Linked DNA regions of Homo sapiens: all the other regions are linked to region 3. The links come from fine-mapping of genetic effects on gene expression. A gene starts in region 3. Each other region holds a variant in brackets. All regions are shown on one strand. Distances are between the middles of the regions. Region 1 holds the start of MVD (mevalonate diphosphate decarboxylase). Region 2 overlaps ZFPM1 (zinc finger protein, FOG family member 1). Region 3 holds the start of SNAI3 (snail family transcriptional repressor 3). Region 4 overlaps ZC3H18 (zinc finger CCCH-type containing 18).

What was found. PIP is the estimated chance that this variant, and not a neighbour inherited with it, causes the effect.
Region 1: its variant is fine-mapped to the expression of SNAI3 in whole blood (INTERVAL, PIP above 0.99).
Region 2: its variant is fine-mapped to the expression of SNAI3 in whole blood (INTERVAL, PIP above 0.99).
Region 4: its variant is fine-mapped to the expression of SNAI3 in whole blood (INTERVAL, PIP above 0.99).

Annotation. Positions count from the first base shown.
Region 1 is chr16:88,659,978-88,668,075 of GRCh38, reverse strand. It overlaps MVD (mevalonate diphosphate decarboxylase), which reads left to right and starts at 4,985. Exons shown (of 10, transcript NM_002461.3): 1 at 4,985-5,065. The coding sequence starts at 4,996. SNAI3-AS1 (SNAI3 antisense RNA 1) reads right to left here and starts at 4,703. Exons shown (of 4, transcript NR_024399.1): 1 at 4,676-4,703. RefSeq lists silencers at 4,321-4,480, 4,821-5,240 and an enhancer at 4,691-4,740. The variant T/CTTTTTTT (reference allele first, on the strand shown) is at 3,485.
Region 2 is chr16:88,532,858-88,540,955 of GRCh38, reverse strand. It overlaps ZFPM1 (zinc finger protein, FOG family member 1), which reads right to left. Exons shown (of 10, transcript NM_153813.3): 9 at 8,021-8,098; 10 at 3,925-7,808. The coding sequence ends at 5,977. Among named protein-coding and RNA genes, the nearest start is that of ZFPM1-AS1, 5.9 kb to the right of the region's middle. RefSeq lists enhancers at 660-1,262, 6,410-6,971, 6,972-7,532 and a silencer at 6,309-6,768. The variant C/T (reference allele first, on the strand shown) is at 3,617.
Region 3 is chr16:88,682,993-88,691,090 of GRCh38, reverse strand. It overlaps SNAI3 (snail family transcriptional repressor 3), which reads left to right and starts at 4,584. Exons shown (of 3, transcript NM_178310.4): 1 at 4,584-4,760. The coding sequence starts at 4,685. SNAI3-AS1 (SNAI3 antisense RNA 1) reads right to left here. Exons shown (of 4, transcript NR_024399.1): 4 at 3,905-4,300. RefSeq lists silencers at 1,217-1,391, 4,304-4,763, 4,814-4,973.
Region 4 is chr16:88,608,105-88,616,202 of GRCh38, reverse strand. ZC3H18 (zinc finger CCCH-type containing 18) reads right to left here. Exons shown (of 18, transcript NM_144604.4): 7 at 7,152-7,269; 8 at 4,667-4,935. Among named protein-coding and RNA genes, the nearest start is that of IL17C, 26 kb to the left of the region's middle. RefSeq lists an enhancer at 5,113-6,058. The variant CCGCTCG/G (reference allele first, on the strand shown) is at 4,885.

The DNA of each region.
Region 1 (8,098 bases), 23 kb after region 3:
CCCCAAACCTAAAATAAAAGTTAAAAAAAAGTATCAAATTGTTAACTCCTCTGGAATAAACATTTCCTTGTCTTTTTTTAATTTAAATTATTATTTTTAAAATGCCCATATTCCCTGAGTCCTCGCTTCTTTTTACCTCTCCAATCGCCTGGCTTCATGGTGTTTCACATTTGCTGACTGCTTCCAGAAAAACATTCCCACTGAAGGCCTCCCAATGCAAGGCAGATATAGAGCAAGCTAGACACATGCCTTCCTTTCCAGTTGCTTTCTGACTTTTTAAAGTCCCAGATGCCTGGGCTTGGGGAAAGGACAGGAAGCGCCAGGACGCAGGAAGCCCCGGGGATCAGCAGTAGGATGCTGTGCAGGCTGTGCTCGGGGCCCCTCTGCTGGCCTGTCCAGGCCAAACCCCCAGGGCTGCAGGCCTGGAACCAGGCAGGACATGCTCAGCCCTGGCTGGGCTTCCCCTCCTTGCCCCAACACCAGTCAGGGCCCACCCACGGGCTCCAGCTGTCTGGCTTCCCATTCATCTCCCAGACCCTCTCCCCTCATGAATCAGTGCCACACACAGCCTACCCATACCATACTCAGCAAAGCACCCATGCCTGTGGCTCAGGTGCGGTGGTGTGATCAGAGCTCACTGAAGCTTTGAACTCCTGGGCTCAAGCGATCATCCTGCTTTAGCCTCTCTAGTAGCTGGGAGTACAGGTGTGCACCACTACGGCCAGCTAATTTTGAAAAAATTTTTTTGTAGGCTGGATGCGGTGGCTCATGTCTGTAATCCCAGCACTTTGGGAGGCCTAGGCGGGTGGATCACGAGGTCAGGAGATCGAGACCATGACCATCCTGGCTAACATGGTGAAACCCCGTCTCTACTAAAAATACAAAAAAATTAGCTGGGTGTGGTGGTACACACCTGGAGTCCCAACTACTTGGGAGGCTGAGGCAGGAGAATCACTTGAGCCTGGGAGGCGGAGGTTGCAGTGAGCCTGGGAGGCGGACGTTGCAGTGAGCCTGGGAGGCGGAGGTTGCAGTGAGCCGAGATTGCACCACTGCACTCCAGCCTGGGCAATGGAACAAGACTGTGTCTTAAAAAAAAAAAAAAAAAAAATTTTTTTTTTGTGGATATGGTGGAGTCTCGCTATGTTGCCCAGACTGGTCTTGAACTCCAGGCCTCAAGCAGTCCTCCCAAATCCCAAAGTGCTGCTGGGCTTACAGGCATGGACCACCATGCTTGGCCTATTTTCGACACACATACAGGCTGAGGTTCAGGAGAGCTGGGCTACAGGCGTCAGGGTGGGGATCGATGTGTGACATCTTTCAGGGAGGTAGTTTATCCTAGTTCTCCACTCAATAAGGGAGTCTGCCCACAAGCACACTGTCGGCACCCATTGCTACATGGCTCAACTGTGAGTATAACTTAGATAATTGTAATAATGAAAATAAGGAATGCTGATGGAGGGATAGGATAAGAAGGTATGTGACTGGGAGATGGAAGAGAATTCCTTATTTCTATTGAGTCATAATCAATAGAGGTTATCTAAAACTTAAAAAAATAGGGCCAGGCACAGTGGCTCACGCCTGCAATCGCAGCACTTTGGGAGGCTGAGGCGGGCGGATCACAAGGTCAGGAGATCGAGACCATCCTGGCTAACACAGTGAAACCCCGTCTCTACTAAAAATAACAAAAAAAAGTAGCCGGTCGTGGTGGTGGGCGCCTGTAGTCCCAGCTACTTGGGAGGCTGAGGCAGGAGAATGGCGTGAACGTGGGAGGCGGAGGTTGCAGTGAGCCGAGATCACGCCACTGCACTCCAGCCTGGGTGACAGACCGAGACTCTGTCTCAAAAAAAAAAAAAAAAATAATAATAATAAAAACGCCAGGCATGGTGGCTCACGCCTGTAATCCCAGTGCTTTGGGAGGCCGAGGCAGGCGTATCACTTGAGGCAAGGAGTCTGAGACCAGCCTGGCCAAACATGGCGAAACCCCGTCTCTACTAAAAATACAAAAATTTGCCGGGCCTGCTGGTGCACGCTTGTAATCCCAGCTACTTGGGAGGCTGAGGCATGAGAATCACTTGAAACCAGGAGGCAGAAGTTGCAGTGAGCTATGATTGCCCCCCTGCACTCCAGCCTGGGTGACACAGCGAGACTCTGTCTAAAAAAAAAAAAAAGAGCAGCCTGGGCAACACAGTAAGACCTCCATCTCTACAAAATAAAAAATAAAAATTAGTCAGGAGTGGTGGCACTTATCACAGCTACTTGGGAGGCTGAAGTGGGAGGATCACCTGAGCCCAGGAGGTTGAGGCTGCTGTGAGCTGATGGTGCCATCGCACTCCAGCCTGGACAACAGAGTGAGACCCTGTCTCTAAACAAAAATAAATTGTTTTTTTTTCTACTGGACTTAAACAATCTGCCCTCCTTGGCCTCCCAAAGCACCAAGCCTGTGTCTTCTTTTTCATCACAGCCGTGGCAGAAGGAAGGAGGTGACTGGAAGCCCCACTCTCTCTGAGTAGCTGAGGGAATACACCCTGACTATAGGCCGAGACAGTCCACATCAGCTCTTCAATAGGATTTAGTGGCTTTGCATAAAATGGAAAAGCAGCTGTGATTGCAAGAGAAATTAAAAATAACCACCATCTGAAATGCAAATTGAAAACAGTGAGACAACACATGTCACTCTGGCAGGTGACCCACTGTGCTGGTGAAGGCATGCAGGCACTCTCAGACTTCCGCAGAGAGACCTGAGTAATCAATTGACTTCCACAAAGGGCGACTTGCCAACAGCTATCAAAAGTACTCAGGCACATCCCACTTGGCCCAGCAATTCCACTTCCAGGAATTTCTCCTGCAGAAATACATGTGCACAAACAACGTAGGAAAGCACTGTTTATAGTAACAACCCAACTAGGACAGACCAGGTATATTTAGACAACAAACAAGGAAGCTTTTTACTAAATTGGGATGATCTCTAAGAAGAAGGTACGTAGAAAAAGCAAGGTGGGAGAACACGCTATGTGCTTGTACTATGCACGTCAATGAAAAAATACACAAAGAATTGACAGGCCAGGTGGAGTGGCTCACACCTAATCCCAGTACTTTGGAAGACTGAGATGGGAGGGTTCCCTGAGGCCAGGACTTCAAATCAGCCTGGGCAACATAGCAAGACCCCCCCACATCTCTACAAAAAAATTAAGAAAAAAATTAGCCGGGCATGGTGGTGTGTACCTGTAGTCCCAACTACTGAGGAAACTGAGGTGGGAAGATCCCTTGAGCCAGGAGGTCGAGGCTGCATGGAGCTTTGATCGTACCACTGCCCTCCAGCCTGAGCAACAGAGTGAGAAAAAAAACAGACTTTTTTTCTATTTCTGGAAAAAAATAAAGAATTTATAAGTATGATGGTTCTGGTAATAGAAGTAGGTGGCTAGGCAGAGTGGACACTTCACACTGCATACTCCCCTATTTTCCGAAATCTGAGTTTTTTTTTTTT[T/CTTTTTTT]TTTTTTTTTTTTTGAGATGGAGTCTTGCTCTGTCACCCTGGCTGGAGTACAGCAGCACCATCTCGGCTCACTGCAACTTCCGCCTCCTGAGTTCAAGCAATTGTCCTGCCTCAGCCTCCCCAGTAGCTGGGATTACAGGCGTGCACCACACGCCCACCTAATTATTGTATTTTTAGTAGAGACAGGGTTTCACCATGTTGGCCAGGCTGGTCTCAAACTCCTGACCTCGTGATCCGCCCACCTCGGCCTCCCAAAGTGCTGGGATTACAGGTGTGAGCCACCATGCCCAGCCAATCTGAGCTATTTAAAAACTAAAGGTAAAATTTTAAAAGGGGAAGGGGAAAATGGGAAGTCATTGTTTTAAGGGGACAGAGTTTCTGTTTGGGGTGAGAAAACTCTAGAAATAGTGGGGGCGTGGCACATGATTGGAATGAATGGCAGGGAACGGCACGCTTAAATGTTCCTGTACGTTTCACAGGAGAAGTCAATGCACACACAAGCGCCGCAACCCAGTCCAAGGCTTTGCTCCTACAGGGCCTTACAGGGGGTATTTGAGACGCCCACCTTAATGCAGGTTGGACCCAGCTCCGGGCTGCGGGGCTTCCCCGCCCCGGGGTCTTTCGTGTGAGCCCCGTGGCGGGGGATCCTGGCCCAGGACATGGCGCGGAGAAGGCTGTGGGCGGCGGGACAGGGTGCCTTCGGCTGCCGGGTTAAGAGTGGATCCCGGGATACATCCTCCAGCGCCTGCCCTCGGGCCTGTGTGCACCCCCATACCCAGCGGGGCCGTCCAAGAGCTTCAAGGAGGGCACAGCGCGACCCGCCCTCCCCTCAGCCCCGCACACCGTCCCACGGCCCCGCACAGCCTCCCTCCCACACAGCGCCCCACGGCACCCGCACAGCGCCCCACGGCCCCTTCATGGTCCCCGCACAGCGCCTCACAACCCGCACACAGCGCCTCACGGACCCTTTACGGCCCCCGCAGAGTCTCCCACACGGCGCCCCACACAGAGCCTCACGGACCCCGCACAGCGCCTCAAGGTCTCCGCACAGCCCCCAGCACAGCGCCTCACACAGCCCTTCGCACAGCCCCCCGCACAGCTCCTCACGGGCCCCACACAGCTGCCGCACAGCCCCGCACAAGCCCGCACAGCACCAGCAGACAGGTAGCCCCCACAGGCAACAGCGCCCACCTCGCCGCGCCCAGACCCCGGATCGCCGACGCGGACGCCAGGCGCCTGGGCACACGGCGCCTGCGCAGACAACACCACGCCCCAGGCCTGGCGAGCGCACCCTGCGGGTGGGGCGGACCTACGTCAGCAACCCATCGTCCGATCCCGTCCATTGGCTGAGAGGTAATGCGTGCGCCCGACTCGCCGCTGATTGGTCGGCGCGCGAGCAGCCGGGCTCGCACGGGCCAATCCTGTGGTAGCGCGTGAGGAGGCAGAGGCCTCTGGGGTGGGATCGCGGGCCGTAAGTGGCTGTGGAGCTGGGGTCACTGCGCGGTGGGACCATGGCCTCGGAGAAGCCGCTGGCGGCAGTCACTTGTACAGCGCCGGTCAACATCGCGGTCATCAAGTACTGTGAGTGCCGCGGGCCGGCCTGGGACGGGGATGGCCGGGAGCGAGGCCGGGTACGCGGGGGTCGCGCGCTGATTCGGCGGCGCGCTCCGTCCTGCCCTCCCAGGGCCTCGACAGACGGGGAAACTGAGGCTCAGGGAGGGGCGCGGCGGTGGTCGGGCGGGGCCGCGCGCTCCTTCGCGTGACAAGCTCGGCGCCACCCGTTCCCCCGCGACGGCTGCCGCCCCTGCAGGGTCGCCCGGCGCCTGCCCATTAGCGATTACCGAACTATCGAAATCATCAATCATCGATTCCCATGAATCGTAAGAATCCGCCGTGGTGGTGCGCGTTTGTGGCTCCAGCTACTCGGGAGGCTGAGGCGGGAGGATGGCCAGAGCCCGGGAGGTCGAGGCTGCAGTGAGCGGAAATCGCGCCACTGCTCCCCCAGCCCGAGACCCTGTGTCCCTCCCTCGCCCCGTTTCTCCCAGCGGTAACCTCCAAGGAGCGGTAATGGGGGGCCCGCAGGCCCACATCCGTGCCGGGGAGGCCGGTCCGCACCTGTGCGTTCACAGCCCCGCCCCTCCCCTCGCGCCGGGGTTACCTGGCCGCCACTGACCACTCATTTCTGTAACGTCATTTCAAAATGTTCTGAAACTGGAATCGCAGTTATGTGGCCCACCCAGTATCTTTTGAGTTTGGCTTATTTCATTCAGCATAGAATGTGGACGTGCCCCGGGATTGTATCAGTGCTTTGCCCCTCTGTTGCTGAGCCAGTCCGTGGAATCCATGGACCACCCTCTCTCTAGCCAAGGCCTCACCCCGCAAAGAGCATCTAACGTTTTCTTTCTTTCTTTCTTTTCTTTCCAGAAGCCGCCACCACGACTGGCTAATTTTTTTGTGTTTCCCTTACCAATAAAGCTGCCATAAAATGTTGTATACAGGTTTTTGTGTGAACATACATTTCCATTCTTCTGGGATAAATGCCCAGGAGTGCGGTTGCTGGGTCAGATGGTAGATATATATATATGCCTCTCTGTCTCTCTCTCTCTTTCTATGTATATATGTATGTTTGTGTGTGTGTATATATATATACACCTGTATAGATATATGTGTGTGTATATGTATACACCTATATAGATGTATGTGTGTGTATATATACATATATATATTATATATATACTTTTTTTTTTTAAAGAAACTGTCTAATTGTTTTTCAGAGTGGCTGGGCCATTTTGCATCCCTACGGTGATGCAGATTTTCCGCATCCTCACCAGCATTTGGTGGAGTTGCTGTTTTTCATTTTAGCCGCGTCCTGGTAGGGATGTGCTGGCAGGGTGCTGTGGTCCTCATTCGCGTTTCCCTGTTGGCCAGTGACGTGGAGCATCTTTCTTTGTGCTTATTTGCCATCTGTGGGTTTTCTTGGTGAAATCTCTCTTCATATTCTGTGTCCACGCTCGAACTGGATGGTTTGCTTTTTTACTATAAGTTTGGAGAGTTCATTACACATTCTAGGCTGGGCACGCTGGCTCAAGCCTGTAATCCCAGCACTTGGGGAGGCTGAGGTGGGCGGATCACCTGAGGTCAGGAGTTTGAGACCAGCTTGGCCAACATGGTGAAACCCCCGTCTCTACTGAAAAAAAATAAAATATGTATTCTAGATATTAGTCTCCTGTTGGACATGTGGTTTGCAGGTATTGTCTCCCAAACTAGCTAATCTTTTTGTCCTCTTAACAAAGAGCCAGTTTTTCATTTTAAAGAAGTTCAGTGTATCAATGTTGATGTCAAGTCTAAGACCTCTTTGCTTAGCCCTATGTCCTGAAGATTGTCTGCTTTCCTCCAAGTTGTACAGGATTGCCTTTTATATTTAAGTCTGTGATCCAAGGTTGTCCAGTTAGCCCAGAAAGGCTATCCTTCCTCTATTGAATTGCTTTTGCACTTTTGTAAAAAAAAAAATCAGCTGGGCATGTTTGTGTGGGTCTATTTCTGGATTTTCTCTTCTGCTATTTTTTTTTTTTTTTTTTTTTTTTTTGAGACAGAGTCTTGCTCTGTCACCCAGGCTGGAGTGCAGTGGCACAATCTTGGCTCACTGTAACCTCCGCCTCCTGGGTTCAAGCAATTCTCCTGCCTTAGTCTTCTGAGTATTTGGGACTACATGCACGTGCCACCACACTTGGCTAATTTTTGTATTTTTAGTAGAGATGGGGTTTCACCGTGTTAGCCAGGCTGGTCTGAAGCTCCTGACCTCGTGATCTGCCCACCTCAGCCTCCCAAAGTGCTGGGATTACAGGTGTGAGCCACCGCGTCTGGCCTTTTATTTTTATTTTTTATATTTATTTATTTTATATTTATATTTTTATATTTATTTGTATTACTTTTATATTTATTTTTTTGAGACAGACTGTCACTGCGACACCCAGGCTGGAGTGCAATGGCGTGATCTCGGCTCACTGCAACCTCCGCTTCCCGGGTTCAACCGATTCTCCTGCCTCAGCCTCTCGAGTAGCTGGGACTACAGGTGTGCGCCACCACACCTGGCTAATTTTTGTACTTTTAGTGGAGACGGGGTTTTGCCATATTGGCCAGGCTGGTCTTAAACTCCTGACCTCAAGTGATCTGCCTGCTTCGGCCTCCCAAAGTGCTGGGATCGTAGGTGTGAGCCACTGAGGCTCACCAACAGTGATATTTATGGAAACGTGTCCATTTTCTTGTAACGTTCAGAGACTCTGGTCTTCTTTAAACCTTACGTTTGAGCTGGTTTTTGATAGCGCGCTGGTGGAGGAGGGGGTGCTGGCTCAAGATAAGGAGGCAGAAGTCCAGGTTCCCCTCCCCACCAACGCTGTCCCATCCCCACCAGGCCCTCAGGAATTCCTGAGTGTCTGCTTGGCCTCTGACAAGAGCCGGCAGGTCAGGGGAGTCCAGTCTCCCGTGTGCTCTCCAATGACTCCTGGGGAGGTGAAAGTCCCCACTCCTTCAGGGAGGGAAAGGGGGCGGGGCACTGTTCCAGCCTGGAGTGTGGGAGGGATCTGTTTCTTTTTTTCTTTTCTTTTTTTTTTTTTT
Region 2 (8,098 bases), 150 kb after region 3:
CGCCACCCTGTTCACCAGGAGTGTCAGAGAAGGGGAGGGCCAAGTGTGCACTCCGCGCAGGGCAGGACACGGCCCTTGGGCAGAGATCTGGGTCCAGCTCTCTCCCTGCCCCGCCCCTGCCTCAGCTGACGAAGGCCTGGTGAGCAGGGCTGTGTGTGCTCCTGCTGGTGAGCTAGTGAGGTCGGCGCCCACGGTCTGGGCACCTGCTGTGAGTGCAGGTCTCACACGTGCCAGAGAGCAAACTGCTGGGAGCTGGTTAAATGCAGATTCCCAGGCCCTGGCCGGCAGGGAGGGAAGCAGCCAGACAGAAGCTGCTGCAGGTCTGTGGGCAGTGCTGGGGAGGCCTGGGGCTCTGAGGGGACAGAGGGGCTCTGAGGGTGCCAGATGGGGAGGCCGTGCTGGTGCGAGGGCCGCCGTGTGCAAGGCAGGGCTCAGGCTGTGTATTTCCCTTGCATCTTGGTGGTCACTCCTGTGACCCTGGGCAAGTCACCGTGCCTGGGAGCCCCCTGCTCCCTGCCCAAGGACAGCATCAGAGGATGTGCCTCCAGGGTCGTGTTGGAAGCAGCCTGGAACAGCCCTGTGAGGTTGGGATTCTGCCGGGTTCGCCACTCTCGCCAGGTCCAGGCCACCTGGCTGTCTGGTGGCCAAGCTCCTCCCGGGTGGCCAGTCACCTCCCCTGCTCCTTCCCTCGCTGTGGAAATGGATGCGCTTCCGAAAAGCTGCGAGACCTCCTGCTCTGCGCCTCCCTCCTCCATGCGTCCCGCCCTAACCCTAACCTCTGCCCGGAGCTCCCGACCCTCCCTGCCCCTGCCTGGCTCACCTCTGAGACACTCCCAGCCCGAGGTCCCGAGGCGAGTTCTGTCCACAGCTGCATGGTTTGCTCTTCTCTTCACCTCTCCCTGGCACCTCCAAGGAGGAGGGGGTTGGGTGTTGAGGGGGTGAGGCTGCCTCCTCCCAATCTTCCTCCCTCCCCCTCTGCAAGGCCCCGGCAGATACAGGGCAGGCCAGAGTGCAACGGCTTTGCTGCCTCCTGGCGTCCTGAGGCTCTGCCTGAGACTCCAAAGCTGGGCTCTCCCGAGGGGTCGGCTTGCGGGGGACAGGTGGGGACCGGTTTTCAGAGCAGACCCATCCGACGGTTGCCAGCTCACGCAGCCCCCCAGCCACAGGTGATGTCCTGCTCTGCATGTTGGTGTCCTGGTGTGGGAGACAGGGCCGGCAGTGGGGGCCCTCTCCACTCCCACCCTTCCTCAGGCAGGCTGGGGTGGGCTTCTGCTAGGCCTGAGCTTTCTGTAAGCCAGGGCGTGGCTGGGAGCCAGTGCCCAGCAGTACGGCTGGTGGTCGAGAACCGAGTGCTGGAAGCCAGCAGAGGGATGTGTCCTGGCCCAGCTGTGCCCGCCAGGTGCCTGGGCAGGAGGTGTGTCCCGATGGAACCTTGGGGCCCTCGTGCACAGTCAGGGCACTCAGCCCATGGTGTGGCTGAGAGGACAGACCCTGTGCCTGGCAGAGGAAGGGGCCTCAGGAGGGCGAGGCTGCCCTGCATCATCTCGTGGACGTTGTGTCCCAAGTAGCGTGAGGGACTCCCGGCAGGCTGGGCTGACCCTGCCTGGGAGTTGCCAGCCTGCAAGGGGCTTTGAGCTGTATGCAGCTCAGGTAGAAGGGAGCAGGTGCCCTCCTGGAAGAAGGAGGGTGGAGGCGGGAGGCCCATCCTGTGCAGGGCAGGGGACGGGTACAGCCTGGCTGGGTGGCCCTGAGGGGGACCTTTTAAGCCAGTCTTGAGGAGAGAAGGAGTTTCACAGGCAAAGCTGGGGGGAGTGGGGAGGGGGGAGGAGTGGGGAGAGAGCAGCTTGGAATGCAGCGGTCCGAGATCCAAGAAGCTCAGGTCACACATGGGACTCAGTGGACAGTGTGATTGGAGAGTGGGCTGTGACGGTGGCCGTGTGCCATGAGTGGACAGTGTGGCTGGAAAGTGGGCTGTGACAGTTGGACTGACTGCTGGGCATGGGGAGGGGCTGGCTGTGGTCCACACACACCCCTGTGACTTCAACAGATGCAGACCCCTCCTCTGTGTCGGCCACTTGTGGGTGCCTGGGAGGCAGAGGTCAAGCAGGCGCAGCCCCAGCTTTCAAAGGAGACAGGCCAGTAGGCGACGGGCAAGAGGACAGAGATGCAGAGTGACCGTTCCTACGTGGGAGTGAGCTGGGGACAGAGGTGCAGAGTGACCATTCCTACACGGGAGCGAGCTGGGGACAGAGGTGCAGAGTGACCGTTCCTACGCGGGAAGTGAGCCAGGGACAGGTCTGAGGGGGCACCTAAGCTGAGAGCTGGATGACAAGGACAGCCTCGGAGGAGTAGAGAGGGCATCAGGAGGCACTGCCTGGAGCAACCAGCTGCAGCATGGAGCCCAGCGGGTGGTGGGCTTAGCAGGGCCAGGGGCTGCCGTCGGGACAGGCCGCCAACGGGAGGCTCCTCTCCTCTGTGCTGAGGCAGAGAAGGGGGACTTCTGACCTCTGAAGGATGGGGCCAGTAACAGAAGGGGTTTTACGCGAAGCACAGGCACCTGGGGGCGGGGACGGGCCTCAGAGCAGGGTGAGCCTGGGAGAGGGGAGCGGTGGCAGCTGTGTGAGGAGTGGACCCTCGAGATTTGGAAGCGGCTGTTCAGAGAGACTCAAGGGTGAAGTCCCAGGTCTGGGAGTCGGCGATGGTGGATGGGTTTGGGAAGCGGTGGGATTTGGACAAATCAAGCATTGCTTTGACAATGAAGGGTGAATAGGCAAGGCTGATGCTCTCCAGCTTGAGGGGCAGGGGGCCACTGAGGATGCCTATGCAGGTGAGGGGAGGAGACAGGTGGGCTGGTGGGGAGACAGGTGGGCTCGGGGTGATGCCTGTGCAGGTGAGGGGAGGAGACAGTGAGCCAGGGGGGTGCTTGCACTGGTGTGGGGAGACAGGTGGGCTTGGGGGAGGGGAACACCTGCACAGGTGTGGGCAGAAGTTACAGGTGCGTGGGGTTACAGTCACTCATGGTACATCAAGGGCCTGGAAGGACACAGGGGCTGTAGGTCTGCAGGTCTGGGGCTCAGGGGAGGCGTGGCTAGACTACAGAATTAGTGGAGAGAAGACCATGAGCCCACCCCAGGAGTGTGGAGGGAGAACTTCAAGGGGAGACCAGGGCAGACTCAGAGCCTTGAACCTGGCTCAGCAGAGAACCAGCTGGGGGGCCGAGGGGGTGTCTGTGAGCAGGGCAGGCAGCTTCCTGGGGAGAGGCGGGAGAAGGCCTGGGCCACCACCGAGTCAGCGGCTACAGGGGAGGCACAGGGTGGAGGCCCAGGCGGTGGTCTGGTGGGGGGAGACTGGGGTGATGGCTTGAGGGAGTAGGGGTGACTGATGGCGTCTGCCAGGTGTGGGGGCCCCAGGGTCTGTGCAGAAGACGCGTGCCCGAGGCGAGTCCTGGGTGCGATGGGGACGGGCTCTGGCCACACGCCAATGACCTGGGACGGGCGATGGCAGCGGTACCCAGCCCTGCATGGTGGGGACAGTAGGGGGTTATGCAAGCCAGGACAGGCGCAGGGCCCTTCGTGAGGCTCAGTGTGCTGCCCTAAGCTTCGAGTCCGGGCCGTGG[C/T]GGGGCCCTCTGGGGTGACTTCAGGTCTGGGTCCCGGTCACAGGGTCCTTGCTGCCTCTGAGATGAGCCCCCAGGAAGGGTTGCCAGGCCCGAACTCCCACTCCTGCGGCACAGGTGTGGACACTGAGGCACGTCTGGGTGCATGGCGGGTTTGTGCGGCACTGCTGGGCTGTCTTCCAGATTCTCCTCTGCGTCTTGCATTCCAGGGCCTCGCTTGGTCAGGTTTGGGGTGGGGCTCAAAGGGGGTGAGGACACTGGAGTTGTGTTTTTTACCCCCTTTGAGCACCTGTCACTCACCAGAGACTGTATTCGTAGTTTCTAGACACCTTTAAACAGTTTACTTTTAAATGTACACACAGTGACAACCCCCCACCAGGTTTCTATTTTTTAGAACATCTTGTACCCTGCGCCCGCACCTGGGGAGGACTTGGGGGCAGAGCCTCCTGAACCCTCCACGCAAATTCATGCACAACAATGCAAATGATGAGCAGACTTGAGGGGTCCGTGCCTCCCGTCCCCGCTATCACCTGGTCTTCAACAGAAGGGGTGTCTGTGAGGAAAAGGCTGCTTGCCTTCCCTGGAGCTCAGGTCCCTGGGAGGGGGTGGAAGCCATGTCTGTCCATTGGCCTTGGCTACGGGCCCCATCTGGCCAGACCCTAGTGGGCAGGTGGACAAAGACATCAGAGACCACTGAAAGCGCTGCAGACCCAGGCCCACGAGCTGCGGGCAGGAGAGCGAGCCCTGGACTGGCTGGGAAGTGCCTCGGGCTTCTGAGGCAAGAGGCCGCTGCCTTCTTTGCCTGCACTCACCAGGGCTGCTGGGCAAAGCTGAAAAAAATGCAGCTAGTTCAAGTAGAGTTGGAAATGGGCTGGGAATGGTAGCTCGCGCCTGTCATCCTAATGTTCTGGGAGGCTGAGGCTGCAGGAGCACTGGAGGTCAGGAGTTTGAGACCATCTTGGGCAACACAGGAAGACCCTGTCTCTATAAAAATGTTTTAAAAGTTAGCCAGGTGTGGTGGGTCAAGCCTGTAGTCCCAGCTACTTGGGAGGCTGAGGCAGGAAGATGGTTTCAGCTCAGGAGTTTGAGGCTGCAGTGACTTATGATCGTGCCACTGAACTTCAGCCTGGGGAACCGAACAAGACCTTAGCTCTAAAAAATATAGGGTTGCCCAGCCTGGGCAACATAGGGAGACACCATTTCTACAAAAAACACAAAAACTAGCTGGGCATGGTGGTGTACACCTGTAGCCCCAGCTACTGAGGAAACTGAGGTGGGAAGATCACTTGAGCTCACGAGGTCAAGGCTGCAATGAGCCGTGAGTATCCCAGGGACTCCAGCCTGGGCAAGAGAGTGAGACCCAAAAATAAAAAAATAAAGTGACGTTGGGAATAGAAGAGTGTTTTTGTTCTCCAGTGAGAAAGCACGCTGGAGGCTGCCCACAGCCACCCAGCTGCAAACGGCACGGTGACACCGTGGCTGAACGCGGTCAGCCAAGTACTCCCTCAGTGTGGCCGGCCCATACAGCCCAGCAGGGCAGGGAAGACGGGGGGTGGGGGTGCCCTGACCCTTGCACCGACTCAGCCACCACAGGTGACTCCACCACACGGTTGTCCTCAGCCCTGGCTCTGAGGGAGAGATGCACCCACCAGTGAGCATCAGGACCCCCTCGAGGCCAGGGAATGCTTCGGCCTCGGTCTCCCTCTCCTGTCCACCTACTCGCCTGTTCTTCCCCCAGCCTTGGCCACCACAGGGCTTCATCCTCCCCAGGGCGCCCCCACCCCTGCCATCCCTGGTGGTCTGTGACTGGATGGGGGACATCGGACCCCCAGGACCATGCAGGGTTGGGGGATGGCCAGCCAGGTCAGTGCCCCTCTCTTCCGTGTCTGGCGGCCAAGTAGACCGTGGAGAGGGTCAGCAGTGTGGAGGCTGCTCTCCCTAGGGGGGTATGGACAGGGCTGGGGTGGGGTAGGCCCAGAGCGGCTGGCCCTGCAGTGGTTCAGTGTGTGCTGTGGCCTCCGACCTGACGCTCGGTCTAGCTCTTAGCACCCAGTGGTGTAACTCCGGCAGGGGCCCAGCCACTCCGGGCCGCAGTGGCCTGTGTACACAGCAGGGCTGGATGTGACACTGGCTGCGTGTGCCTGCTGGCTCAGAGAACTAGGCTGGCCCACCACCATGCTCATCAAACTGAACTTCTTTATTAAGTGCCAAGGGTCCAGGCGGGCGCTGCCCCCTGCGGCCCCCTCCGCCGAGGCCTGTGCGTGGCGGGGTTCCCAGGAGCGGCAGTCCGTGCGGCCTGGGGGCGGCCCCCTCCCCGCATCGCAGCGGGGCGTGCAAAGCGTCTGCGGCTGTAGTGTGGGCGCTCACTTCACGTGCTCGGCGGCGTGCGAGGAGCAGTAATACTTCTTGTGGGCGATGAAGGTGGACAGGCTGCTGAACTTGATGTTGCAAAGACGGCAGTACCGGTGGTTGCCGTTGGGCAGCGGCGCCGGCGTGCCCTTGCTGGGAGTCTGGACGCCCTTGTCCGAGTAGGAGGGGGGCGCCGGCGGGGGCGGCACGGCCTCGGGCGCGGCGGCCGGGGACGGGGGCGGGCCGGGCGGCGGCTCCTGGGGCTCCGGGCCGAGGCCGTCCCGGGGGCCACGGGACCCGGGCTGCGGGGAGGCGGCGGGGGCGGGAGCGGGCGAGGGGCCGCGGTCGGCCGGCGTCCGGGCCTCGACCCCCGGGCCGGCCAGGGGCGCGCCGAGCAGCAGGCCGTGCGCCAGGCGGAAATGCTCCAGCAGGTCCCCGCGCACCGGGCCGTTCGGGGGGCAGTAGGGGCAGGCGGCGGCGGGCAGGCCGAGCGCGCCGGGCGGTGGCGCAGCGGGGCACGAGTACTTCTTGTGCGCCAGGTAGGCCTCGAGGCTGTGGAAGCTCACGCGGCAGGCCGTGCACTCGTGGTAGTCGGCCAGCGCCGGTGCCGGGGCTCCGGGGAGCGGGCGCCGCGGCTTCTTGCTCAGGTCGATGGGGCCGTCGGCCGCGGGGCCGGGCGAGCGCGCAGGGGCGAGGCCGGGGCCGCTTCCGCTTCCGCTTCCGGGCCGCGGCGACTCGGGCGCGGGGGCGTGGCCGGGCGGCGGGGGGGGCGGGGCGCCGGCCGCGTGCAGCTCGTAGAGCTTGCGGCGTCTGCGCGTGCGCACAGGCGCGGCGGGAGAGGGGGCCGGGGGCGCGGCCGGCCCAGGGGGTCCCGGGGGCGCGGCCGGTCGGCGCGGCGGCGGGTCGTGGCGCGAGGCGCAGTAGTACCGCTTGTGCACGGTGTAGGTCTCGTGGCGGCTGAAGCGGATGTTGCAGGCCTCGCACAGCGTGCGGCTGGGGTCGTCCTCCGCGTCGTCCACGGAGCTACCCGGGCTCTGGCTGCCCTCGCTGCCCCGGCCGCCCGCGCCGTCCTCGGGCGTGGCCGCGCCCCCAGCCCCCTCCTCGCGCGCTCCGGGGCCCGGGGACGAGCGCGGCGCGTCGGGTTCGGCGGGCTGGCCGGGGGGCGCGCGGGCCGGGCCGGGGGGCGCCTTGGGCCTGCGCGCGGCAGGCGCGTCCTCGGGCGCACGGCGGCCTGAACAGTAGAGGCGCTTGTGCACGTAGTAGTTGTTGACGTTGCTGAAGGTGATCTCGCACTCGAAGCACGTAGCGCCCTTGGGGGCCCCGGGGAAGAGCCCGGTCTGCGCGCCGCCGGCGCCCGCGCCCGCGCCCTGCTGCAGCCGGCTGTGCACCAGCTCGGACATCTTGGCCAGGATCTCCGAGGCGGGGGGCGCCGCGTCGGGCCCGAACACGTACTGCGGAAGGAACAGGGCCCCGGCCAGGCCCAGCTCGCCGGGCACCGGGCTGGAGCCCGGCGTGGGGCTGGACAGCTCGGCCTTGACCCTGGCCGGGGCGGGGCTGCGCGGCGACGGCGTCCGCGACGGGGCCTGGGGCCCAGGCTCTCCGGGGCCCAGGATGGGGGCCGCCTCCGGCTCCTCCACCGCCTCCACCTTGATGCTCCTGGGGGCCGCCGGGGGCTCGCTGCTGCCTCCATTCTGGGCCAGAGGCTCCGCTCTGGCCTCTCCGTTGGTGGCCTCGGCCAGGGCCTTTCTGTCCAGTCCTGGCGATGGGGTGGGCGCCAGGCCCAGGTCCGCGGAGGCCAGGGGGCCTTGCAGGGCCGTGTGCTGCTGCTGGAAGCTGCCCAGACTGTCTGCAGAGAGATCGCAGGGGTGGCACCTCAGGCCTGGGGCAGGACCTGGCCGGTCAGAGCTGGAGGGCGAGCTCCGGAAGGGGAGGGGTGGGCGGGAGTGGTTTAGAGCGAAGGCTGAAACGGACCCCCACCTGTCTTGGGCGACAAGCCCACTCCCTTCCCACTGCTCAGGGGGCCTAAGGGGCAGGGGTGGCCCCCACAGGGCTGCTCACCTGGGGGCAGCTTGGTTGCTGGGTGTCCGGCCCCTGGCGAGTAGATCTCACCCTTGGAGCCAGGCTGGCAGACCATGT
Region 3 (8,098 bases):
GGCTCCCCTCAGCACCGGTCACTCTCCCTTGCCTGTGCTGAGGCATTGTGCAGTTTCATGTGTCTTACGGTTGGTGTGGGTAGGGACTGTTCTAACGGGCAGCACAGCCAAGCCTGCAGCCTGGGCACCAGGAGGACACCACGCTCAACCGCCCATGTCAGGGGCCAGAGATGAGCACTTAGGGGCGTATCTCCCACCCAGGAGCCTGGGCTGCCCGCACTCCCTGCACTTCCTTTAATCAGACCATTCAGGCATTTGCTTGTGAACCTGCAGTGACCACTCCCCATTCCCTGTGCATACGGCCCGTTACCACACACTGTCTTCTCTCTGCCTGACTCTTCACTTCTGCCCTGTGGGATCTGGGGACGGAGGATGGCCCTTCCCACTCCTGGCGCCCTCCCTGCCCAGGACCTGTGAGTAGTAAGTCTTTGAACATGTTTCCTACTGCAGTGGGGACTGAATTTGCACCTTCCACAAGGAAGAACCAGGGGCTGCCCAGGCTGGGTTTTCTCGGGGACGTGGGGGACAGAGGGCAGGCTCCCAACACCAGAGCGATGGTCAGGCAGGCATAACCTGGACGTGAATCAGACAGGAGCCACGGGGCGTCTGCCAGTGTGAGCAAGTTTCCTGGGGGGACTCATGGTTGCAGGTCAGACAACTAGGCATTAGGCCATCTGCCAGGCAAACGACACATCCCGGGAAAGGCACACGGCAAATACCATGTCCATCCCCTTCATCTCCCAAGAGCACAGGGCTGCCAGCCACCTGGCACTGGCACTGAAAGCCACTTTCGCTGGGGGCTCTGAAAACAACCCTGTCTGCCTCTCAGAACCCCCATATCACACAGGATGTGTCCACTGAACCCCAGCTTAAGAACCACCCTTCCTGGCCAGGTGCGGTGGCTCACGCCTGTAATCCCAGCACTTTGGGAGGCCAAGGCAGGTGGATCACCTGAAGTCAGGAGTTGGAGACCAGCCTGGCCAACATGGTGAAATCTTGTCTCTACTAAAAATACAAAAATTAGCCAGGCATGGTGGCACATGCCTGTAATCCGAGCTACTTGGGAGGCTGAGGCAGGAGAATCACTTGAACCCAGGAGGTGGAGGTTACGGTGAGCAAAGATCACGCCACTGCACTCCAGTCTGGGTGACAGAGTGAGACTCCGTCTTAAAAACAAAAAAAAAAACAAAAAAACAAAAAACCACCCTCCCTCTGACAATCCGGCCCTCAGACGGTGGTGTGGGCAGCCATAAACAGTAGTGAGTTCCCCTTCACGGAGGGGGACCAAGCACACAGTGGCGCCCGGTCTGGCTGGATGTTGAGATTTCAAGCACTGGGTTCAAGTTTCCATGGGCCCATGACCTTGGGCCGCATGGGATTGTCCCTCGATGTCTGCCTCCGCATGGGATGTCTGCCTCGATGAACTGCCTTTGCTCCTACAAGAGGGGCCATCTCTCTGAGTCCAAGGACAAGCAAGGCCCAGCTGCCAGACTCTCCTTTGAGGGCCTGGGTCTTCACCTGAGTGTCTCCACTCGAGACAGACAGGGCCTACGTGCCCCCAGAGCATGGGGCAGGGCCTCTAGAAAGGCCACACTGTCTGCAAGCTCCTGCTTCTCTTCCATCCAGTTCAACAAGCCCTGCTGAACCCCCAGCATGCACCTGACCACAGGCGGGCATTGTGCAGGTAGCAAGGGCTGAGCCCCTCCTGGTCTAGCTCTCAAGGACTGTGTTCTAATTCGGAGTGAGGGTTTCCAAGGTTTGGGTCATAAAGCCCTATGAGTAAAAAACGAGCAGTGGCTCCCGCCTGTAATCCCAGCACTTTGGGAGGCCAAGGCAGGAGGATCACTTGAGATCAGGAGTTCAAGACTAGCCTAGCCAACATGGTGAAACCCAGTCTCTAGTAAAAATACAAAAATTAGCCTGGCATGGTGGTGCACACGTGTAATCCCAGCTACTTGGGAGGCTGAGGCAGGAGAATTGCTTGAACCTGGGAGGCGGAGGTTGGAGTGAGACTCCATCTTAAAACAAACAACAGTCAATGGTGACAGAGATGTCTACCGTGTTGGATACCTGTGTGCACATCTCCAGACACTATGGTTACAGTCACTGTAAAACCAGAAAGGCAGGAAGACATACGTGTAGGAAGGATGAAAATGTCAACATAAATGGAACTCTAACCGTTTTTGCCCTGACCGGCAATTCTTGGGGTGGGCTACCCACTGGAAAACCGCTCTTGGGTGTCGGATGGAGGCAGATGGGAGGGGCCAGGCTGCCGGGCCCAGCACAAGTCATCATCCTGATGTCCTAGATGTCCAGGGAAGGGGGCAAGGACCTGGGTCGCCTGCTGCAGTTCAGGAGGGCGGGTCTAGCAGGCTGTGGGCCGTGGGTTTCCCCACTCAGGGGCACGTCAGTTTAACCCCCAGAGCCAAGCTGCCGGCAGTGAGGAACGGAAGACACGGAAAGGATGGAGACGGCCGCCCTCCCCCAATCCCCACCCCCGAGGCTGCACCTGTGGGAAGGGGGACGCTGATGTTTCCCTCTGTGGGGCCTTCTTGGGTCCAGCCTGGACACCGCCCTGTGCATCACAGCTGAAGAGTGAGTCTGCAGCCGACTTGAGTGTCCCTGGGGGGCAAGTTGTTGCGGCAGCCCTGGGACCCCACCCCAAAGGTGCTCGCAGGCCCTCTAGGGCGTTCCCGGGATGAGATCAGCCATTCTCCTCGGGAGGGCTACAGCAGCCCTGAGTAACACCAGGCTCTAGCTGGGATTAGGAGATAAGCTTGCTGGGGCTTGGCGGGTGGCCACACAACGGGTAGGTGGGCGGGGAGGGACGGTGTGGGTGGAGGCTTGGCTCAGGTATCTGCAAGCGTTATCTGTGTCTGCGAGGGAGAGAGAGAAGGAAGGGAGGCTATAAATAGAAACCTTTCCAGGCGAGGAACAGGTGAATAAGCAGAAGGCAGGCATGTGTCCTCTGAAATCTACACTCCCGGCGTGGTGGTGCCAGGCCATGCTTGCAGGAGAGGCGGGCACCTTCTTCCAGGGGCACCTCCACCTGTCCTTCCACTCCCCCTCACCAAGTGGCAGACAAGCTGGAGTGTGGCTGGGTCCCAATCCCACTGTGTCCTAACCTCTCACAGCCTTGGTCTTCTTTTTTGTTTTTTTTTAATTTTTTGAGACAGGGTCTTGCTCTGTTGTCCAGACTGGAGTGCAGTGGGGTCATCATAGCTCACAGCAGCCTCCACCTCCTGGAGGCTACTGCAACAAGCAATCCTCCCTCCTCAGCGTCCTGAGTAGCTGGGACTGAAGATGGGTGTTGCCACGCCTGGCTAATTAAAATAATTTTTTTTTTTTTTTTTGTAGAGACGGGGTCTCATGTTGTTTTTCAGGCTGGTCTCAAACTCCTGGGCTCAAGCAGTCCTCTTGTCTCAGCCTCCCACAGTGCTGGGATTACAGGCGTGAGCTGCTGAGCCCAGACTCACAGCCTAGTTTTTTTTCATTGGCAAAGTGGGGCTGATACTAGCCCAGCTTTTCACACCCTGGACGTGTGATGTGGGACGTGGGATGCTGGTGTGGCACGGCCCTCCTCCCTGCTGTCTGTCCCTCAGAGCTTCCATGGACTCACCACCCCCCACCTTCTCCACCCCCGGCCCACAGGGGGCAAAGGCCACCCAGCTCTGAGGTGGAAGCCCTGCTGGGGAGGCAGGCCGGCGGCACAGCCAGGGACACCCTGTGTGCACGCCAGCCCAGAGACGGCCCCACCTGGCCCCCAACGTTATGAAATGTCCATGTCAAAAGAGACCCAGACACTGGACACAGCGGCTCCCAGCTTTTTATGACCCTGAGGGCTCTACAGGACCACAAAGGAGGGAAACGGATTGCCCAGGTCACACGTGCAGCTGTTGCAGAATTCACGTGATTCACCGGTTTTATTAAACTTCCCATAACCATGTCTGACCCCCTGGGAATTCCAGAATTCCAGGCCAAGTCCTCCGTCCCCCAAAAAACAGCTTTCTGGAGGCACTGGACAAACTCCTAAAGGGCTGACTCCAGTGGGGGAAGCCTTCGGAGACTGCAGCCCATCCAGAAAGGACCACTGTCTCCAGGCCACCGGTCCCGGGCCTGTTCCAGAGCCGCCAGTAGGGCTGGTCACTAGGGTCAGCTTCGTTTCGCCTGGGCTCTCCCCATCAATCCTGTCCTGTGAGTTTGCAGAAGGGATGGGGAGGCGAGGCCAGGCCGCAGAGTGAGCGTCATTCTCCGCAGCAAGGGTTCTCCAAGGACCGCGCTCGGCCGACGCTTCCACATTCTGTGGAAGAGATTCTCGCTCGGTTTCCACACAGCTTTGAACTCTGCCCTTCACTCACGGCGAGTGGGTGGCCAGGCCCGACGGGTCGGTGTGTGACTCGGCGGCGCGCACGCCAGAGAATTCCCGTGGGGAGGACACCGGCGGCCACGCGCTCCCCGCCCCGTCCCGCCCGCGCACCTGTCCTGGGCGTGTTGCCCGAGACCCCGCCTCGCCCTCAGTTCCGCCCCCGTGGCCCCGCCCCACTCGCGCCGGGCGCTGGTTGGCGGAGGCGGCGCGCTATGCTAATGAGCCTGACCCCTTCAAGCGCCGGCGGACGCAGCAGTCCGGACCCAGGCGCGCCCCTCCCGCCCCAGCCCACCCCGGCCTGCCGCCCGGGAGGGGAACATGCCGCGCTCCTTCCTGGTGAAAACGCACTCCAGCCACAGGGTCCCCAACTACCGGCGGCTGGAGACGCAGAGAGGTACTGACTACCCGATCCCCGAGCCCCTGCCGGGACTCGACCCTGAGGGGCGGGAGAGAGAGAGAGGCCCCTGGGAGCGGGGGCTGGGGAGACACCTGTCCCAGGTGGGAGGAGAAGGAGCCAGCGCCTCTGCGCAGCGGCTGCGGCTGCAGGGAGGGAGGTGGCCCACGGGCGCCTCCACTTCAGGGCACTGAGCCCCGCCTCCGGCAGGGCGGGCGGGATTCTCTCCCAACTTGGAGAAGTTTTCTAAGTTTTCTAAGCCCCCAAGTCTCCCTGGAACTCACCCCTGATATACAGCCGCCCGTCCCAACCACTACAGCCCCAGCTAAAGGCACCCTGGAGTCATCTTCCTGGCGCACACGTTTGGGAGGGGTCGCGGGGTGGTGGGTGGGAGGGAAGGAGGGCCGTCTGGGGCGGCCCGGCTCAGGGACCCCCGGAGCATGCTGACTGGGGGTGTAAGCACAGGGGATGGTGAGAAGGACACATGGGCTCTTTCTGGTGCAAAGGCACTGCCCCTCCTGCATTCAGTTCAGGTGAGCCTCCGCCCGTGGTCTCCCTCCCTCCCCCACCTCCCTTCACCCCAGAAGCCCTCCTGCTCACCCCGGCAGGCTTGCCTGGGCAGGCTGGGCTAAAGGGCTGCAATCCTCCACACACCGGCTAGGCTGGGGAGATGGGTGCCCAGCAACCGGGCTGCCCGTTCATTCCCACTGCCTGCTAGGCTTAGGGACACGAGAGAAGAGGACTCTGTCCTTCAGAGGACAGCCTGCCACACGGGCGGTGAGAGCAGTCCCCACCTGGCTTGGCAGCTTCTTGGGACAAAGGCCCACTGAGGGGCGCCGGCGGACGCGGTGGTCGGGACTCACGCTCTGTGGCCGGTGGGGGAGAGCAGGAAGGGCGCTGTTGGGGCTGTGGCCCCCAGCAACACCGCCAAGAGGCCTTTATCCCAGCTCAGAACCCAGAGTTGGGGATGGGGGGGATCCCACCTGGACCCACACCCGAGGCCCGGGCTGCCACCAGGGGGTGCCAGCTAGGACCATGCTTTTCAAATGTGCATTTTGAAATCAGTTTCATCAGTCACCCCCAGCAATTTTGTAAAATAAAATAGAGCAGAAACTGCCGGAGTGCCTGGCTCATGGTGAAGGACACTGGCTTCTGTTATGTGTATGTGGATGCGCATGTGACTACACATGTGTGCGGAATTTACATGGGTAATAGTTGCAAGTTTCAAAGTGTTGCTTAGGGTCCATCCCAGTGTGCAAATCTGGGTAGCTGTGCTGGGCCCAGTGGGCAACTGTCGTGAGTAGCCGTGCTGCCCCGCAGTGCTCTCTGCTCCCCGCCCCCGCTCCCCTCCTCACTGTAGCCCCAGCTGCCTGGCTTTCTGACAGCCAGGGGGCCCTGGCAACTTTCTGCCAAGATGTTACCCCAGGATAGACCTGAGGTGCTGGGATTTGGGGCCCCTCAATCTCTCCTTTTAAATAAATGGCTCCTATGGCTCCCCAGGGAACCCCTGAAGCCAGCAAGGTACTTAAACAGTCTCTTCAGCTGGGTGTGGCGGCTCATGCCTGTAATCTCAGCACTTTGGGAGGTCGAGGACGGCAGATCACTTGAGGTCAGGAGTTCGAAACCAGCCAACATGGCGAAACCCCGTCCCTACTAAAAATACAGAAGTTACCCCGGTGTGCTGGCGGGTGCCTATAATCCCAGATACTCAGGAGGCTGAGGTAGGAGAATCACTTGAACCCGGGAGATGGAGGTTGCAGTGAGCCACGATCGCGCCCCTGCACTCCAACCTGGGCGACAGAGCGAGACTCTGTCTCAAAACAAAACAAAACAAAACAGTGTCTTCTCCCCAGGATCTGGACCGCAGCATGAATAAAAAGGCAAGCAAAACCCAGAGAGTATGGGGAAAGCATTTAAAATCCCAGCAGAAACACATGGTCAGCCTGACGGGGCGAGACTGTCTCTTGCCCCGTCCTGCCTCTGGGCTCAGCCACTGGGCCCACAAACAGGGTCCTGGCTCTGTGACAATACCTGGAGGCAGAAAGGTGGCCATGTCTTAGAGATGGAAAAAAGAAATGGTGACTTTTTCCTGCAGAGAGGCCCCAGCAAAGCCGGGAAACCTGGGGCTCCCCCAGTGCTGTCTCCCCAGAACTCTCTTGGACGCTGCCTCTTAGCCTGTCATTGCCGTCACTTCTGGGTGGACAGAAACCTGATGACTCTGTAATTAGGAAAACTGAGGGTGGGAGGAGGTCAGGTCAGGAGAGAGTGGCAGATGGGAGGCGTTCCTTTGAATCCCCTATTCCTCCTCATCCTCACAGCACTGGTTATTGTCAATTTTTTTCAGTTCTACTGGGTGTGAGCATCTCATTGTGATTGCGATTTGGGCTTCCCTGATGGCATTGAGCATCTTTGCATGTGTTCATTGGCCATTTGTGTATCGTCTTTGGAGAAATAGTTATTCAGATCCCTTGCCCAGGCCGGGCGCAGTGGCTCACACTTGTAATCCAGCACTTTGGGAGGCTGAGGTGGGCAGATCCCTTGAGGCCAGGAGTTTGAGACGAGTCTGGCCAATGTGGCAAAAACCCGCGTCTACTAAACATACAAAAATTAGCTGGGCATGGTGGCAGGTGTCTGTAATCCCAGCTATCAGGAGGCTGAGGCAGGAGAATTGTTTGAACCTGGGAGGCGGAGGTTGCAGTGAGCTGAGATCACGCCATTGCACTCCAGCCTGGGCGACAAGAGTGAGACTCCAGCTCAAAAAAAAAAAAAAAAAAAAAGGCCAGGCGCAGTGGCTTATGCCTGTAATCCCAGTACTTTGGGAGGCTGATGCAGGCGGATCACAAGGTCAAGAGTTCGAGACCAGCCTGGCCAACATGGTAAAACCCTGTCTCTACTAAGAATACAAAAATAAGCCAGGCGTGGTGGCGCATGCCTGTAATCCCAGCTACTTGGGAGGCTGAGGCAGGAGAATTGCTTGAACCAGGGAGGCAGAGGTTGCAATGAGCCCAGATCGTGCCATCGCACTCCAGCCTGGGTGACAGAGCGAGACTCCATCTGGGGGAAAAAAAAAATTAGCCAGGCATGGTGGCGCACACCTGTAGTCCCAGCTACTTGGGAGTCTGAGGCAGGAAAATCATTTGGACCTGGGAGGTGGAGGTTGCAGGTTGCAGTGAGCCGATTTCACGCCACTGCACTCCAGCCTGGGAGACAGAGCAAGACTCTGTCTCAAAAAAAAAAAAAAAAAAAGGGTGGGGGGCCAGGTGCGGTGGCTCACGCCTGTGATCCCAGCACTTTGGGAGGCCAAGGAGGGTGGATCACGAGGTCAGGAGATCGAGACC
Region 4 (8,098 bases), 75 kb after region 3:
CCCAGATCAGGCCAGACAACGTCTGAGCACCTCCCAGTCCCTTCCTGAATGTAAGACTCCTCTGTGAAGCTGAGGGCTCAGGGGCTGGCGATGGCAACCTGCTGCCTGGTGGCCATGCTGGCAGAGTTACCCTCTCCAAGCCTCCTGGGATCCGTCACCCGCTTTCCTCTGGGGAGGCTGAGCACACAGGAGACGGGCACAGCAGTCGGGAATCTGCCCTCCCATTCCGCGGGTCACTAAAGTGCGGGCCACAGCAGAGGAACACAGCAACCTTAGGCATGGCGGCCCTCTAACGCGTACTCCAGAAGTACATTCTTGTACACAGAAAACATCCCTGAGTTGGAATTACAGACTCCTGACTGGGAAGAGCCCCCGGCTGCTTAGAAACAGGCAGAATACATGACTAGGGGCTGGGGAAGGGGGTCTGTGGCCAGGCACGTGTGCCCATAAGCCACCAAAGTGGACATGCTGACGGACTCATAAACCCAGAGCCACACAGCACAGTGACCTTCCACGTGGATATCACTGCCTTTCTATGTCTCTGCTTCTAAAACCAATGATCTGGGTGGCGTGAAAACCCCTATTTTGTGAATCTGGAAAGCAGACTCAGCTGGTTCTGTTTGTAGAAATCAATGTGCAATTTTAGCAACCCTGTAACAATCAATTATGACATGCAGGTAAAAATGCAGGCTGATACCAAATCCAAAACTCACGGACAGCACCCCCAAATGTGGGTAAGCACCAACCTGTGCGGGACTCTGGGACAGGCACAGAGGCTGCAACGGGGAGCAGGGCAGACGGTGGTGCCCCAGGACCATCTGCTGCAAGGGCTCCAGATGGGCACTGAGGGCCATGAGGAACAAGAAAGCAGGCTGGCAAGCAGGAGGGGATGGGGAGACTTCCCTGTGCAGAGGAATCTGAGCAAAACCCTGGAGGAGGTAGAGGCAGCCCGTCCGGGCAGAGGGAACGGAGGAGGTGGGGGCAGCCTGTCAAAGGCAGAGGGAACGGAGGAGGTGGGGGCAGCCTGTCAAAGGCAGAGGGAATGGAGGAGGTGGGGGCAGCCCGTCCAGGCAGAGGGAACGGAGCAGGTGGGGGCAGCCCGTCCAGGCAGAGGGAACGGAGCAGGTGGGGGCAGCCCGTCCAGGCAGAGGGAACGGAGCAGGTGGGGGCAGCCTGTCAAACGCAGAGGGAATGGAGGAGGTGGGGGCAGCCCATCTGGGCAGAGGGAACAGGAGGTGGGGCAGCCCGTCCAGGCAGACGGAATGGAGGAAATGGGGGCAGCCCATCTGGGCAGAGGGAGCGGCTGGGGGTGTGTGCACGGGGTGCTGGGCTGCACCTTTGCAGTGGGGTCTCAGGGGAGAAGGCAGCCTTAGGCTGAGTGCACACTGAAAATACTGTGTGTGCTGTAGGGGAAGGGCTTCTATCCAAAAGGGCTTGAAAGGCTGAAGAAGGCGGCACAATGTCAAGGTCAATGACGGTTTCCCCGTTTGGATGACCATGTAAACTTCAAAATAACTTAGAGATTACTGTAACATAAAAGGATTAAAAACATCTGAAATATGTCACTTATTCTGAATGTTCTTTAAGAAGATTACTTTGCCTAGTGTTAGGAAAGTATGACAAATACAGCACATTTAGGGAAGTCCATTCACTGTGAGCTGGAGAATGAAAACAGTCAAAACTGGCACTTGCCACCGGCTAAGCAGCAGCTACAGCCATGAGTGACCCTGAAACAAAGGCCTGCGAAGTCCTGCCTGAGAGCTGACTTTCAGAAAAGCGTAGATGACTTGTGTTCCACTGTACACAAGAGCGGGTGTCGTCCAGCCACACGGACAAGATGAGGAGGACAAGGGGCTTGTTTTTGTCCCGTGGTGGAAAGCAAATCCTTCCAGAGCCACAGTCGCAGGTCCTGATGGCTGCCAGGTCTCTGAGGGGAGCATGAGAACTGTGGCCCCTCCAAGTGTGGCCACTGTGTGGCTCCAGCCACGAAGCTGCCCATGCCTGCAGGTCTAGCGGAGTCCAGTGTTACTGGAAGGTGTAGGCCCAAATGTGGATTTTTATGAGAGCCAAGTCAAACAACATCCCTGAGTTGGAAGTACAGACTCCTGACTGGGAAGTCCTGCAGGCCATGGCCCTGGAAGGATCTCGGGCTGTTTCCCAATAAGGAACTGCCTTGATCCCTCCTTGCATTTCACCCCCACGGGGACGGTGACACAAACCAACCCTGAGACGGAGCAACGTTCATGCTCTCATCGACACCCCCCCTTTTTTTGAGACAGGGTCTCTCTCTGTCACCCAGCCTGGATCAAAGACCTATGTGTAAGAGCTAAAACTATGAAACTCTTAGAAGAGAACACGGCAGTAAATCTTTATGACCCTGTATTAGTCAATGGTATCTTACATGACACCAAAACCATAAGCAACAAAATAGAAAACATTAATTGGAACTGCACATCATGAACCTGATAAGGGACTTGTATCTGGAATACATAAAGGACTCTTACCACTCAATAATAAAAAACAAAAAATGAGCAAAGGATCTGAATAGGCGTTTCTCCAAAGAAGATATACAAATGGTTGATAAGCACAGAAGAAGATGCTCTCATTATCATCCATCATCAGAGAAATACAAATCGCAACGGCAGGGAGACGTCACACCCACCAAGACGGCTGTCATCAACAAGACGGACCGCAGCAAGTGCAGACAAGGATGCAGAGAGATGGCGCCCTCCTATGCGGCTAGCGGGAATGTAAAAGGTGCAGCTGCTCTGCACAACAGTTTGAGGGTTTCTCAAACAGCTAAACATAGAGTGACCATGTGATCTAGCAATTCCACACTGAGGTATATGCTCAAGAAAAATGGAAACCTATGTCCACACAAAAACTTGCACACAAATTCACAACCACAACAGCCAAAAGCTGGAAACAACCCAACGTCCATCAACAGACGAACAGAGAAATGCAATGCGGTGCATCCATGGAGGAATAAAGCACTGACCCACGCTACAACGTGGACAAATGTTAAAAACGCTCGGAGTAGAAGAGGCCAGTTACAAAACGCTGTGTATTGCACACTTCCGTTTCTACAAAACGTTCTGAATGGGCAGATACCTAGAGACACAAAGCTGCTAAGAGACTGGGAAGTGTGGGGAAAATGGAGAGTGACTGCTGATGGGTACAATGTTTCTTCTTTTTATTTTGAGACAGAATCTTGCTCTATTACCCAGGCTAGAGTGCAGTGGTGCAATCTCAGCTCACTGCAACCTCAACCTTCTGGGCTTAAGTGATCCTCCCGTATTAGCCTCCCGAGTAGCTGGGACCACAGTGGTGCACTACCACGCCCTGCTAATATTTTGTATTTTTTTGTAGAGACGGGATTTTGCCATGTTGCCCAGGCTGATCTCAATTCCTGAGCTCAAGCAATCTGTCCATCCCGGCCGCCCAAAGTGCTGAGATTACAAGAGTGAGCCACCGTGCCCAGCCTAGATTTTTTTAAAACAATTTTTAATTTTTTTTTTTTTTTAGATACAGGGTCTCACTTTGTCATCCAGGCTGGAGTGCAGCCGTGCGATTGTAGCTCATGGCAGCCTCCAACACCTGGGCGATCCTGTAATCCTCCTGCCTTGGCCTCCCGAGTAGCTGGGACCACAGGCTCATGCCACCTCCCCCAGCTAATTTTTAATTTTTTTTTTTTTTTTTTAAATAGAGATGGAGTCTTGCTTTGCTACCCAGGCTGGTCTCAAACTCCTGGCTTCAAGCAATCCACCTGCCTCAGCCTCCCAAAGTGCAGGGTGCAAGTGTGAGCCACCGCAAGGTTTCACTTTAGGGGGCAAAAGTGCTCTCATGTTGATTGCGATGATGGCTGCACAACTCTGTGAATATTCTAGAAACCACTGATTGTACACTTTAAATGGGTATGTTGCAGCGTCCATTAATTATATTTCAATAAAGTTGTAAAAAACACCCACCAAAAACATCATCCAGTACTCTAATGTCCACTGACGCCCATCCATTCTGCTCTAACAGTCAAGTATATTTGAGAGAAAAAAAGGGCTGTCCTGAGCCCCAGCGCCTGCCTGTCTCATGGGTCTTGACTGTGCCCCCAGCAGTTGGCAGCAAGGATCATTCTGCACCCAAGGCACCCACTCCGCAAAGGAAAAACAGCAGCCCGCCCGGCCCTCCCCTGCATGCTGGCTGCTAGAGTGCCTCACCCTGGCCAGCAACACGGATGCCCCACAGCACCTGAGCCCAGTCCCAAGCTCTGGGGGCCAGGCATGCTTTGGAATTCAGAACTCTCCTGAGAACAGTAACATGGTGCCCAGGGTGTGAGTTACACACCGTGCGTGGTATACAAGGGCAGCGCCTATTAAAACACACCGATGTTTGCACGTGGACTGTAAGCATTTTCACATCAGTGAGATCCTCTAGAATGAGAACAGCCTCCCAGGAGCTCAGGGCAGATGTCACGGCCTTGGGAGTTTTACAGAAAGGCCCTGCGTTGGAGAGCTCTGGGTTTGGAACTATGGGCTCGGGCTGTGGGCCTGCACTGGTCCCCTGGGCTCCAGAGCTGTGGGCCACAGAGGGGAAGCGCAGGCCAGGGGGACTAGGTACAGAGCTGCATGCCGGACCTCCCCCACACCCCTGGGCTTCAGGAAGCAGGGTCTACCTTGGCGGCTGCGGGGAGCGGGGCTTGGGCTTCCCCTTCTCCTTCTCCCGCTCCTTCTCCCGGTCGCGGTCACGGTGCTGCCGGTCCTTCTCGTCCCGCTTGGCTCGCTCACGCTCCCACTCCTCCTTCCTCCGCTGCCGCTCCTTGTCGCGCTCGCGCTCCCGCTCTCGCTCGCGCTCCCTCTGCCGGCGCTCCCGCTCTCGGTCCCGCTCCCGCTC[CCGCTCG/G]CGCTCGCGCTGTCTGTTCTCTCTCTCTCGCTCCCGCTCCCTTTCCTTTGTTAAAAAGCCAAACACATGGGGACACCGTGCGTTATTTGGGTGACAGAGGCACTGAAAGCCTTGGCTCCAACACCACGCGATCTGTCTGTGTCACAGAATCACACCTGTACCCCACAAACCTACACACAAAACGCCAAGTGCTCCCGACTATGATTGAACTCTCTGCGGTGGAGTACAGAGGAGATGGCAAGAGAGAGGCAGGATCAGGGAGCACCCTCAAGTGGGGATCTCATCTCATTCCCAGCTCTCTCCTTAAAACACAATGTTAAAAACCGGGTCAGATGCCAAATTAGAGCAAACACAAACTAGGAGTGAAATCATCCCAACCACCAATTCTAGACTAACTCAGGGCAGCAATTCTGCAGTCACAGCCCGGTGTCGTTGGCACAGATGGCCTTCCGCCGTGTGGCCTGGGCAAGTCCATTTGTCCATCCAGAGACGGGAGTTCCAGGCTTGTCCCAGGTAGGTGCAGCCACAGCAGAGCACATGCCCTGCCTCTGGAGCAGAGCAGGCACCCAAAAGACTGCTCCTCTTCTTCTAGTACAATCCTCGGATGCCCTTTCCAACTTTTCCTCTGCTCTTACTCATTCATTTGCTCTAATATTCAAGGTTAAAACTGAATAAAGTCCAATCACAACGCACCTGATGGGTTTCAGGCTTGAGGCCTCTGTTGGGGAGATGCAGGGTGCACCCCGAGCCTCCCTGCTGCCCCTCCCTCGGACACAGCAGAGAGGAACGCAGTGGAAAGGGATCCCTGGGGCTTTCTCCCACCTTCCAGGGTACCCTGCCCAGGGGTAAGCAGCAGGACCCTGCAGCCCACCTGCAATGAGGAAGCTGCTTTATGGAGAGACGGGGCACAAGAGCATCGAGCAGGGGGACTTTTCTGGCACGATGGGGCCCTCTTCCCTCTGCAAGCTCACCCTGATGGGCTCCTGAGGAGACAGCCGCACCTGGTCCTCAAAGCTCATGACTGTCCCTGCAGTCACAGAACAGAACTACACAGCAGCTTCTAACTGACCCTTCCCTGGGGCAACTTCGTCAAATCACCCTAACAGCTAAGATGAGGAACTCACAGTCTGAAGCACATAACTCATCAATATGCTAAACTCTGAGGCTCAGACCAGGGAGATTTCCAGGGCGGAAATCTCAGTATAGACCAGTCTTCCATGAGAGCAGTGAGGTGCAGCAGGCCCGGAACAGACTTAACAAGCTGGCTGAAGTGGACCAGAACAGGCGCCACATCCTAAACGGGATCACTGAGGGGTGGGGAAGAGTGACACGCCCGAGCAGGGAGACGCAGGCACCCCTGGACACAGGCATCAGTAAGTATACTGGCAAATCTCATTTTCAAAACCAGGCCGAGCTGGGCACAGTGACTTATGCCTGTAATCCCAGCACTTTGGGAGGCTGAGATAGGCAGATCACCTGAGATCGGAAGTTTGAGACCAGCCTGACCAACACGGCAAAACCCTGTCTCTACTAAAAATACAAAAAATTAGCCAGGTGTGATGGTGGGCACCTGTAATCCCAGCTACTCAGGAGGCTGAGGCAGGAGAATTGCTTGAATCTGGGAGGCAGAGGTTGCAGTGAGGTGAGATCACGCCACTGAACTCCAGCCTGGGTGACAGAGTTAAACTCCGTCTCCAAAACAAACAACCCAGGCCGGGCGCAGTGGCTCATGTCTTTAATCCCAGCACTCTGGGAGGCTAAAGCAGGCGGATTGCTTGAGCTCAGGAGTTCAAAACCAGCCTGGACAACATGGTAAAACCCCGTCTCTACAAAAAAAATACAAAAAAATTAGCTGGGCATGGTGGTGCATGCGTGTGGTCCCAGCTACTCGGGAGGCTGAGGATGGAGAATCATTTGAACCCAGGAGGTAGAGGTTGCAGTGAGCCGAGATTGCACCGCTGCACTCCAGCCTGGGTGACAGAGTGGGACCCTATCTCAAAAAACAAACAAACAAACACCACACAAAAAAACAAAACCATAGCAAGAACCAGTTTTCAGGCAAGTCTTTGTTCAAATGACCATTAATGTAATCGCTGCCTCTGAATTCGTTCTCCGTAACAATCAATTTGGTTTTCAAATTGGTACATTGTGCTGGCTCTATAAGCTCATATAAAGCCCTGTATTTTTTACTGTAAATAAAAAGGGATAACTTGAATGAACAGATCATGAAGTTCATATGTGGATATTGAAGTCATACTTACTCGGTAATTATGATACGGCTCTGTTTCTGTATACTGCACCCTGAAATTCTCATACTGTCCGCCACGCCAAAACCGCTCAATTTCATAGTCATAATAAGGGTCTGCGTAAGGCTCGAGTCTGAAAAGGGCCAATGAAAAAGAACTCTCATCACTTAGGAGCACTGGCGTAAAAAGACCACACGAAACATTAGGGACAGAAAGTAACAGACCGTGACGCAGTGGGGTTTACTCCAGGAGCGCAAGGTTGGCTCAAGGTTAGGAAATCTGTTCACAAACTACATCTAAGAGCAGGCCAGAAGTCAAAGGGTTCTATTCACAGATGATAAAAATGTCTAACAAAAATTCAATAGCCTTTTTGATAAAAAATACTCAAGAAAATAGGAAGTGAGGGCCAGGTGTGGTGGCTCATGCCTGTAATCCCAGCACCGTGGGAGGCCGAGGCAGGTGGATCACCTGAGGTCAGGAGTTTGAGAGCAGCCTGACCAACATGGAGAAACCCCTTCTCTACTAAAAATACAAAATTAGTTGGGCGTGGTGGCACATGCCTGTAATCCCAGCTACTCAGGAGGCTGAGGCAGGAGAATCACTTGAACCCAGGAGGTGGAGGTTGCCATGAGCCGAGACTGTGCCATTGCACTCCGGCCTGGGCAACAAGAGTGAAACTCCGTCTTGAAAATTAAATAAGAAAAAAAAAAAAGGAAAGAAAATAGGAAGTGATACTTTAGCATGATAAAAATATACTGACACACTTTGGAACAAAAGTCAGCACCTTACTCACTGGGGAATAGGAGGAGCTCCCCCAGGAGTCTCCGCAACCACCTGTCCCTGTGTGGAGGCACCCCCTGACTGGACAAGGGGAGCCCACTAGAGGCACAAGAACACGAAAACAAGGAGCAAAACGAGCTCAGATTTGCAAAATGATATGATACTATACATGAAAAACCCAG